2 separate regions of the Homo sapiens genome follow, and region 1 is linked to region 2. Evidence: fine-mapped QTL for protein levels in blood plasma. A gene starts in region 2. The other region holds a variant in brackets. All regions are shown on one strand. Distances are from middle to middle. Region 1 overlaps ST3GAL1 (ST3 beta-galactoside alpha-2,3-sialyltransferase 1). Region 2 holds the start of ST3GAL1 (ST3 beta-galactoside alpha-2,3-sialyltransferase 1).

Region 1 (5,508 bases), 81 kb after region 2:
GCCAAGCATTACAGCTGGAATTCAGATGGCGGTCTCTAGCCAGTGCTGGGCACATTCTGCCATCGCCGTCCCTAGACCTCCTGCCCTTCCAGTCTTCGTTTCTCTCCAAGACCCAAGCAGTACAGCCAGCCTTGGCAAGGCCCACCTCTTATCACTGCATTGTGGGAGGAGATAAAATGAGACTTGTGTGTTTTAAAGTTGAGCAGAACAAGATGTTTTTAAAATGCTGTGTTCCCTATGTGGGAGGCCTTCTAATGATCAGCTGGGGACAGTGCGTCCAGTCCTCCCACCCCTGGGAGGTCCCGGAAAGGACTGCAGTGTGGGATGGGAGGCACACTCCCAGTGTTGGATGCCTACCTGGTGGCCAGCTCAGACAGAGCTGGGACAGAGCTGTCTCTAGCACCTCTGGCCATGAGGGTGTTTGGCCATTCCCAGCGGTCATTCGGCGTAGCTCAGTTTATCTCTCCTGCCAGAGTCGCCTCCTTATTGGACGGAGGGTGAGGAGCACTCGTGATCACTTTGTGGGGAGAGTGGGCAGAGTAGGGCTGAGTGGAGGTGAACTCCCCCTGCCGCATGGACGCTCCCCGAGGTGGGGTATGGGCGCCATCCAGAGAGACCAGCTGAGGCCGAAAGGTAGATTCTTAGCATGAAGAGCTGGGCCTCTGGAGCCGGGCTGTTTGGATCACCTTTTATCTTATTTTTTTGAGACAGAGTTTTGCTCTGTCACCCAGGCTGGAGTGCAGTGGTGCGATCTCAGCTCACTACAACCTCCACCTCCCAGGTTCAAGCAATTCTCATGCCTCAGCCTCCCCAGTATCTGGGATTACAGGCACATGCCACTACGCCCAGATAATTTTTGTATTTTCAGTAAAGACAGGGTTTCACCATGTTGGCCAGGCTGGTCTCGGAAATCCTGACCTCAAGTGATCCACCTGCTGCAGCCTCCCAAAGTGCTAGGATTACAGGCTTGAGCCACCACGCCTGGCCCCATTTCTTCACTTTGAAAGAGAACATACCACCCCTTGGTAAAGCTGTTGAGGTCAAACAAGCAACCTAAGAGAAGTGCTGACTTGGAGCCTGGCACAGAGTTGGTGCACTTTAGGGACAGGACCCAGTGCTTTCTTCCCCAGCCATCTCCAGGACTCATGAGCTGGGGGTGCACTTGGGGAGACATCAATACTAGTATCTCAGTCTCTCCATGGTCCACGCCTCCTGACCCCCAGGGACAGGCTCTGGGAATGCCTCCTGGTCAGAACTGGCCTCTGTTCTCCCACCTGCTTGCTGGGCCTCTGCTGGTCCAAGCTGCCCAGTGTCCCCTCGTATCGTCCATCCCGAGCCTCACCAGGGCTGCCAGGCCTCAGCTGCTCTGAGCATGCCCTGACCCCGTGGTGCCGATCCTTGCCCATATGCTCCGGCCACCCATGTTTTCGCTCCTCCCACTGGACAGCTTGGCAGCCCCTGGTCAAGAGGGCAAGGTCTCCCTCCTTTCCTGACTGCTGGGCCCTTTCTGATGAGAGCTACTCTTCCTCTCCTCTGGGGCCCAGGTATGGGGGTGGGGCTGAGCCTGGGCCAGGGCAGTTTAATCCTGTGATCCAACTGGACACCGTGACACCCCTCCAACCTTCAGTGTGTAGGGATGGGATGGTTCATGCGAAATGCCTGCTGTCGCCTGACGCTCCCACCCATCCCGGAACCCTGGAGGGTGCTGCATGCCTCGCCATTGTAGTAGCTGGGTTTATAACGTGATCTTAATCCCCATTAGGGACACTGCTAGAGGCTGCCCCTCAGCTCCTTCAGGCACCTCCTGGATGCCCCTGAAAATCAGTAGCATTAAAATATTTCCGTGAAGTCACGGACTAGGGAGAAAGGGGCCTCTTTAAGCCACGTGTCAGACTGTGAATCTCGGCTCCAGAGCGGCCACACCTCCAGCCCTTCCTTTATGCTGAGGGTTTTAGAACCAGCGACAGATGCCTGAGGGCAGGTGTAAGGGGCATTAGGAGCTCTGAATTGTCTCTTCTTTATCAGCCTCCAGCACCACCCAAATGGGGGGAAATCCTTTCTTCTGGGACAGGTGTGAGCCTGGGTGCGCGCATAGTGCAACCCCTGGAATTCCCAGCCACGTTACACGCTTCTAATGTCATTTGGCTATCCTAGGACTCCAAATGTAGCACTCCTCGATCCACACACATAAGAAGATTTGTGGATTTAAATTCTTTTTGTGAGGCTATGAATATGAAAACATATTCGCCTCCTTCTCATGTGACCCTAATCCTGGTTAATCGTGTTTCTCTGGGGCACTTCTCCACACTGCCTACTCTGAGCCACTATTTGTGCTTCAGCAGAATCTTTTTTTTCCCCGACTTCCCCAGCAAAGGAACAAGCAGGAGGCACTAAGGTGCAAAGAGGAAGATTTGCAAGCACATCGAAGGGTTCTCCCAACCTGCTGGCACTGCTGGGCTGTGGGGCAAATGGGCAGGCGCCGATGCAGAAAGGAGCAGGGAAACAGGCTCCAAAGGAAAC[G/A]GACTTCCCAAGTCATGCTCATGGAGACCGGGCCACTCTCTAGACTCCCACAGGGTGTCCTGTGCACCCCTCTCCAGTCCAGCCACGATGTGCCAGTTGCAATCACTACTGTCTGCTGCTCACAAGCCAGCCGGGCTCCCCTTTGCCTTCAGTCCCCAAGTCCACGTTCCTCAGGACTTCCACGATCCAGCTCCACCCACAGCAGCCCCTCTGAAGGGCGCCCTGTTTTCTGTAACATACCAGCGTCTCCATCATCACCACCATGTGCTTTTTTGGGCACAGGCCTGGTTTACCCTCCCCCTCTGCCCTCCTCCATCAGTGCTATGCCCCCTGTCTCCATGGCCACCTGCCTTACACAGCCTTCCCTCTCCCTTTGGTTGTCATTCACCTGCCACTTGTGGATCACTAAGGCCCTTGGCATCATGTCTTGGGAGGCACTGGTTCCTCCTGAGCAGATTTATGCGTGTGAACTGCCCTGGGCTAGATCCTGGAGCCGGCCTAGTGTGCGGCTTCGCTATCTAGCAGTGAAGATACGCATGCCGCCAGCTGTGTTCTTGAAGCATCGCAGGCATGCTTGGGTACCTGGGTGAGGTACGGCAGTGGAGCATGGAAGAGCAGGCTCAGGAATCGGCCCTCACCCCTTCCTAGCCATGTGACCTGGAGTAAGCCACTGATACCCAAGGGCCTCAGCATCCCCTTCTGTAAAATGGGATTATGGTGTCACCTCCCTCATAGGACCTGGAACTGCACTTTAGCTAGTCCCTAAAATACTGCGTAGTCTCTCAAAGCCCAACTTCCTTCTCTGCCCAAAGAGCAAATGCCTGCCCGAAGAGCCCCTGGGGACTTTCGCCAGGCATCCACACACAAGAAATGTATTAGCTATGGATGGGTCAGGCATGCACAGATAAGTTGGGGAGGGAGTGAGTTGGAGAGAAGGAGGGGCAGACCAGAGGCCACTAGATCTAGTTAGAGATATTCCATGGGCTTTTGTCTGCAGGCTTATCAAACAATGAGGATTCTTTGATATTTAAGCCCGGCAGGAGTCAGAGAACAACAGGAGAGGACCCAGCAGATCAAACTCCAAGAGGGGCCCAGGAGTGGGCGGTGGTCAAGCCACAGGCGCTGATTGGAGCAGCCATGGGCGGGCTAAGGGGACCTTGCCCTCTGGCTCTACTGGTGTTGACTACATTTCTATGGGAGGGACTGATGCTGTCATCAGGGAGCTTGGGGGACAGGCTTCTTGGAGTGTCCCCCTGGTGGGACCTGGAATGTGTTGAACTTGGCTGAGTGGTGCAAGGGATCCCCTGGTGCCATCCCTGCCAAAGACCCTATCAGTGTCATGAGCCTGAGGATGAAATCTCCCGATGGGTGAGTGCCCCAGCAGCAGTTGGAGCAGAGTTTGGGCAGATTCTAGCGAGAGCAGCTACCCAAGGTGGAGGGGAGGCCAGGGCTCAGGGCATCCAGCTGACCCACGTGCTTCTTGCAAATCCTCTGAGGTGGCCAGCGCCTCAGAGGGGTGTCCGGGGAGGGGCGGGAGGCATGGCTTTCTGTGGGGCACAGCTCCTGGGGCACTCATTGCTTAGACCACATTGTCAGCTGTGCCCCTTGGAGTTAGGTCTGCGGGGTCACCTGGACTGGTCATGGTGCTGGCAGGACACAAATGGTGCATTCAAAGTGGGCAGTGGAGGGGAGCTGAGTTGAAAGGTCATTCACAAGGTCATAGTGTGGTGTAGGAAACAGCAAGTGTGGTGCAGTCCCTGGGGCTGGAAATGGTGGGACTGTTTCCAACCCTAGGGCTGAAGGGACAAGAGGACATAGACTTACTGAGACCCCCAGGACACAGCTAATGTGTGGATGGGGTCATTTGACAGGAGCAAGGGACCATCAGCCCTTGGCTGTCCCACAGGGAGGGCGCCAAGGCAGTCACTGCCTGTCCCCAGTTCCCTCTCTCCCTCTGGCCTTCCTCCAGGGCTTCCTGTGGCTCCCAGGAGGTTGTCCAGACTTTAGGGGGGCCACCAGACCTTGCCTGGCCCCCCCTGTCTGCCAGTGCCGCTGCAGTCTTCCAATCCACTTGACTTTGTTTTCTTTCAGTTCGTTGGACTCACCTACTGTCCCCACAGGCCTTCATACCTGTAGCTTCCCCTGCCTGGGAGGCTCTCACACTCCCTGCCCAATCACCTGTCCACCCTGTGGACCCTCAGTCACTACCACTTCCCCCAGACATCAGCCAGTCCCTCTTACGCCCTCTGCTCGTGGCACTGAAGGCTGCCAGTCAGGGCTCTCCAGGGGAGCAGAGCCTATCCCATATTTGTGTATGCATATTAAGAGATTCAACTTTCGGAACTGGTTCAGGCAGTTGTGGAGGCTGCCAGGTTCAAAACCTGGTGGGCAGGCCAGAGGGCTGAAATCTCAGGCAGGACTTGACTTCTCTGTTACAATCTTAAGGCAGAATTTCTTCTTTTCCAGGGAACCTCAGTTTTTGCCCTTAAGGCCTTCAACCTATTGGATGAGGCCCACCTGCATTCATCTCCTTTACTTAAAGTTAACTGATTGGAGAGCTTAACCACATCTGCATGCTACCTTCCCTGAAATACCTAGACGAGTGTCTGACCAAACTACTGGACTCCATGGCCTAGCCAAGCTGGCTCATTACATTTATTTATTTACTTAGAGATAAGTCTCGCTCCCCCAGGCTGGAGTATGATCATAGCTCATTGCAGCCTTGAATTCCTGGACTCAAGTGATCCTCCTGCCTCAGCCTCCACATAGCTGGGATGACAGGGGCAAGCCACATGCCTGCTGATACATTAAATCTAACCATCACAGCTGGTCTTTTGTGTGATTCCTTAATAATCTCAGCCTCTGTCCCACCCTGTGATGTTGCTTTCAGTGAGCAAGGACGAAGATCATTCTACTTTCTCTCTCCTTTTTTTTTTTTTCGACAGAGTCTCGCTCTGTTGCCCAGGCTAGAATGCAGTGGTGCAATCT
Region 2 (5,020 bases):
TTAATGTAGCTGAAAAACTCCTGTGCCTAGTGATCAGAACATCAACTCAATGCATTACTCACATGTTTGTGGTGATGCTGGTATAAACAAAACTACTGCACTGCCAGTATTGCACGTGGAATACATACAGTAAGAACTCAGCTAAAACTGAGCTGCTTTTGGTTCTTGGCTGCAAAGTGCAACAGCTGGATGACCTGGGGCTCCTTACTTGCCAAATCTGATCCTCTTTCCACAGAATCTACTAGGATATAGTAGCATAGTCTTATATGAGTATAGCATTTTCTATTTTTCGAATATGTTCCCATACATTATTTGATCCATACAATAAACAACACTTTTGTTATTTCATCCAAAAACTCTTTATTGGCCCAGACGATATTCCCAGCCAAAGCTAAAAGTCTGGTGCATGTTAGAAGCTCTTCTTTGCTGGAAGACGCTGCTGGTGGAGGGGACAGTAGCCGATGTAAGCAGAACTCTCTGCCCCCCTCCTCCCATGCACACAAGCAATCTGGAGATGCAGTGAACACCTTGACCTGAGTTTCAGAAAGAGGAAAGCCCACAGGATGTGTCCAGGCAGACAAAAGGGCTCACCCCTTCTCTAGAATTCTATCAAAAACCAAGGGCGTCAGGCAAGAGGTCTCAGAGCAGGTCCCGAAGTACCTAAAAGGCTATTCATCTTTTCCTTCCCTTTCTAGTAGTTATTTTTCTCATTCTCTCTCCTCCCCCTTTTAAAAGCTGGTTTTTCTTCTACTTTTCTCATCTCTGAATATTTCTCCTTTTCTCTCCCAAGTCCCTGAAGTCTTCCCCAACACCCTAGCCCCCATCTTCTAGCACAGGTCATCTTCCTGCTGTGGGCAGGGACCTGACACTGGAGAAACCCACCATCTACACAGCTGACTTACTACATGTCAAAGACAGTTCTAAAGGTTCTATGTGTACGAATTCACTAACTCATCACAACAGCTTTATCAGACAGACACTTCTTAGGTCGGTTCTCACAGATGAGGACACCGAGGCACAGAGTCACCTAGGCTGGGAGGTTCAGTCACTAGCCCAAGCTCACACATCCGTTGAGTGGCAGTGCAGGATTTGAACCAAGAAGTCCGGCCATGCGGGCCCTGGCCTGAATCCCTGTACTACAGCAGCCGTCTGATGAAACAAAGGCTGGGGGACTCTCCCCTTCCACTGCAAAAGGTTGATCTCTCTCCAGCTGGAGCAAGGGGCGCTGGAAGGATGCAATGACCCCAAAGGCAAACTGTGCCTCTTTCCTCTAACATTCCTCCGAAAAGTTGCGAAAGAGGTAGTCTCAGTAAGGGGTTAAGAACCGTAAAACCAGATTTACATGACTTGTGTACTGCATTTAGCATCAAAGCGCTGCACTCTGCCTTTCAGCAAAAGAAGTCTCCACCGCCCCCGCTTCCCTGTAAAAGAGGGAGGGCTGAATAACTGCAAGCCTAATCCGCAAACCCCAAGCTCCAGCCGCAGCCTCCGCATCTGGAAGGAAAAAGCGGCGGCAGGCGAGCCAGGGCAAGGGCTGGGCCAGGGCCGGGGCCGGGACCAGGGCCGGCCGCAGTGCCCGGCTCTGTGGCTCTGAACGCGGTTCTGGCCGCAAGAGTCGTCCAGCCCACGCTCCTCCCTTCCCCCTCCCTAAATCCCACCTCGAGTCCCGCGCCCTTAGAGGAAGTGGGTGGCTCTGCCCGGTCGCCAGCAGGGGATCGGCCCCTTCTCCCCACCGTGCCCCCGACTCGAGTTCTTCTGGGCACTGCCATCCTCTCGGTGCGTGCCCGTCTTCCTGCTGAAACGGACCCCAGTGGCTCCCGGGCCTCCCGGGCGCTCTTCCTTAGCCCCGCCAGCTTGAGGGCCGCGTCCAGAGAGCGGGGAGCTCCTCTCGGGGCGCCGATCAGGTCCCCGCGCCGCAGCCGCCGCCTCCGGCGTCTCCCAGGCTCGGCCTCTGCCGAGCCCGCTGCGGTCCACGTGGCTTGGCAGAGCTAAATTCGGCTTGCAGGAAGCCCGGAGCCAAGGGAAAGCCGAGCCAAGTTGGGGTGGGCGGGGCCGAACGGAGGCGCAGAGTCGGGAGGGGCGGGCACTGGGCGGAGGAAGGGGAGGGCCGCGCGCAGGGGAGGCGGTGGCTGGGCTCTGGCGCGCCCTGGCACCCGGCCCCGGCCGGCCAGGGAAGGCGGCCCCTCCTCGGTCGCCCCGCCTTTCACTCCCGTTACACCCGGGGGAAGGTGTTCCCGAGCCCTCTCCCACCCTCATCCCGCCTCCTCGCTTCCTCGGCTCCAGCCTCCGCCGGCGGAGCCCACTATGCCAGACAGTTTCGACACTTTGCAAAGACAAAGAGCCCTAGACCGGAGGGAGGAGGAGGAGGAAGAAGAGCGGAGAGAGAAGGAAGAGGCGATGTGAGCTGGGAAGGGGGCAAGTGTCCGGGACACCCACACCCCTGTATTCTCCTCCGAACCCCTTCATGCCCAAATCCCGGAAACTCCAGCGTGTCTCCAGCCGTGGTGAGTGCGCGCGCGGAGGCGAACCCTGCTCGGGGTGCGCGGGGGCTGCGTCCGCCTGAGTTGGGGCTCGGGCAGTTTCCTGTGGATTCTCGGAGTGGAAGGTTGATTGTCTGGACCCGGGAACTGAAGGGGTGGGGAGGGGACTAGGAGGGTGTGACAGTGGAGCTGGGACTGAAGACCCCGGGATTCTAGTGGAAGACATTCGAAGGGAGACCCCTTCCTTGGCAGCGGCGACCACCCAGGGCTTTGGGAGAGGAAGAAGGTCGGGGTGGAGGTTCGGGCTTAGGGGTCTTCGGCCGACACTGGAGGAGCTGCCTGGAGCTCTGTGGGGAACCTACGCCAAGTCCCGGGCAGCGGTTCCCGAAAGCAGCCCCAGTGACATTGCACCCGGCGCCGGGCTGGGATCTCCTCCGCTGGGGCCGCCCGTGGGAGGAGACCTCGCTGGGTGGCCGGGCTCAGGCGCTCTCGAGCGGATTTGGGGTCACAGGCTGGGACACCGCGGAGGCCGCCAGTGTTCTGGACGAGCGGCCGTGGGACAGTATCCGGATCGAGTCCCCCAATCCGCTGCAAGCAGGCGCAGATCCGGGAGGTGGCTATCGGCCCCGGGGACGCCGTCAGAGCGCGCTGCTCCGGATCTGGGGGTGAAGTTGACACCCGGGACAAGAGAGCTGAACGCGGCGTGGCGGACAGTGGGGGACGCGGGTGGGCCAAGGAGAGCACGGCCGGAGTCGTGTTAGTGGCAACTCGAAACTCTGAATCCGCCCCAACCCCGTGAGGCGTCGCAGCTCCCAAGAAATAATCTGACAAAAGTTAGCAACTTGCCTGTGTCTCTCGTGTGTGTGACCTGCGTGGGGGCAGGGCCACCCCTTCTGGGAGCGCACGGGGACGGACAGCGGTGACCCTGGGGCGAGGCGCTCTGGTGAGGGTACAGTTAGTTTGGAATCGGGACGGTGGCGCAACTTTCCGCTCCTCCTTTCTCTGCGCGAGTGTTTAAGCGTGACCTTGCGGGAGGAAGCGCGGCTGAACTTGAGATGGGGGTTGAGCTTGCGCCCCGGCTTGGCACAGAGACGTCGGAGCGCGCATTAGCCTGGCCTTGCAGCCGGGTCTCCCAGGAAGCGTGTGGGGATCGTCTGGCTCTGCTCGTCAGCTGGAGCCCTGACTCGCTCCTCCCTCCTACGCTAGGGTCCTCGGCGGCCGTACCATGCGCGGGGCTCGGTGGTGTGTTGGGCGAGGGGACACGTGCGCACCCAGAAGCGCGCAAGGGGGTGGGGGTTGGGCAGGTCACTGCGTCTCGCGGGCTGGGCGAGTCCCGCAGAGGGAGTCAGCCGTGACCCTGAGGGCAGTGACTGGCTCGCCGCGTCCCTGCATCAGGCATTCGCCCGGCTTTCTCGTGATTGTTTCCGGGCACCCCTGGCCTCTCCCGACTTCTCCCCCTCGCGGGTCCCCAAGCCCCGCAAGTTTGCGACGAGCTGGTTCTCCAGGGAGACAGCGAGCGCCCACCCCCGCTCTGCGGCTGGGTGTGTGTGGTGAGAGGAAGAGACGGGAGGAGGAGGCGAGGCCGACTCGCCAACGAGGAAAACGGGGTGAGAGGGGAGCCGGGTTTTCCAATAGTCGCCAGGGCGCCTGGCACGTCGTAGGTGCTAACGCAGTGTTCATTGACAAGGCCCCAAGGTGGAAGGTGCTGGCAGGGGCCCGGACGCCCCCTTCTTCCCTTCCAGTCTCTAAAATGGAGTTCAAATGTATCGACCAAGCCCTTTAGGCTTCTAGACGTGCCTGGAGCACCTACTACGTGCGGGGGCTCTACTCCTGGCCTGTTCGTAGAAGCTGCGGGCGGAGCCTCCTGATTTTCTTTACCCCGCGCTGCCCAAGCGCCCAGAGGCTTCGAAAAGGCAAGGTGCACTGCCCCCTGCCGGCTGCTGTGGAAACTGCCGCTTGTCTCTGCGGTGGGGAAGGGGCGCCCAGTGCGGGGGTCCCTCAGTGCCTTCCCGCACCTCCCCTTCCTGCCCCAAACATTAGGACCCCTGCCGGCTGTTTTCTGAAATCCCATGGTTGGCTGAAATGACTGACTAGAGTTCACCACTCCGTGCCCCTCAGCCTCTGCCAATATCTGGGTACAGCGTGGGGCCTCTTCTAGTCTCCCGTCTCTCTGTCTCTGTCTCTCTTTGGTCGCCAGACTTAACCTCTCGGCGTCTCAGTTTCTATATCTGCAAAATGAGGCCAATAATACATTCTCCAAAATACGTTCTGCATAATTGCGAGTGGCGATAATACATATAATTAAGTGAATGTGTGTATGTATAGGTAGTTCATACTCTACATGTGTGTATGTGTATACCTTGACTTCAGGTCTAGGGAAAAAAGTTCCATCGTACACTTTTTGCTAAATAAAGAATGAATAGAGGGCTCCTTCTCCTCTTGCCTTTTCAAAATCCCACAAACCCTGAAGTTTGCTTTCCCTGCATTTTTCTGGGCCGGCATTTGCTGTTTAGAGTCTGATTGGACAAGGCCAGGACCTG

Evidence for each region. PIP is the posterior inclusion probability: the model's chance that the variant is causal. Sun 2018 read protein levels with aptamers (SomaScan).
Region 1: its variant is fine-mapped to the plasma level of the ST3GAL1 protein (Sun 2018, PIP 0.95).

Annotation. Positions count from the first base shown.
Region 1 is chr8:133,487,918-133,493,425 of GRCh38, reverse strand. The region is part of intron 3 of ST3GAL1 (ST3 beta-galactoside alpha-2,3-sialyltransferase 1); the gene reads left to right. Among named protein-coding and RNA genes, the nearest start is that of ST3GAL1-DT, 80 kb to the left of the region's middle. RefSeq lists enhancers at 2,139-2,684, 4,162-4,945. The variant G/A (reference allele first, on the strand shown) is at 2,521.
Region 2 is chr8:133,569,177-133,574,196 of GRCh38, reverse strand. It overlaps ST3GAL1 (ST3 beta-galactoside alpha-2,3-sialyltransferase 1), which reads left to right and starts at 2,310. Exons shown (of 10, transcript NM_173344.3): 1 at 2,310-2,504. ST3GAL1-DT (ST3GAL1 divergent transcript) reads right to left here and starts at 3,625. Exons shown (of 2, transcript NR_186509.1): 1 at 3,327-3,625; 2 at 341-3,139. RefSeq lists silencers at 1,561-1,620, 1,811-2,300 and enhancers at 4,091-4,310, 3,670-4,523, 4,481-4,550.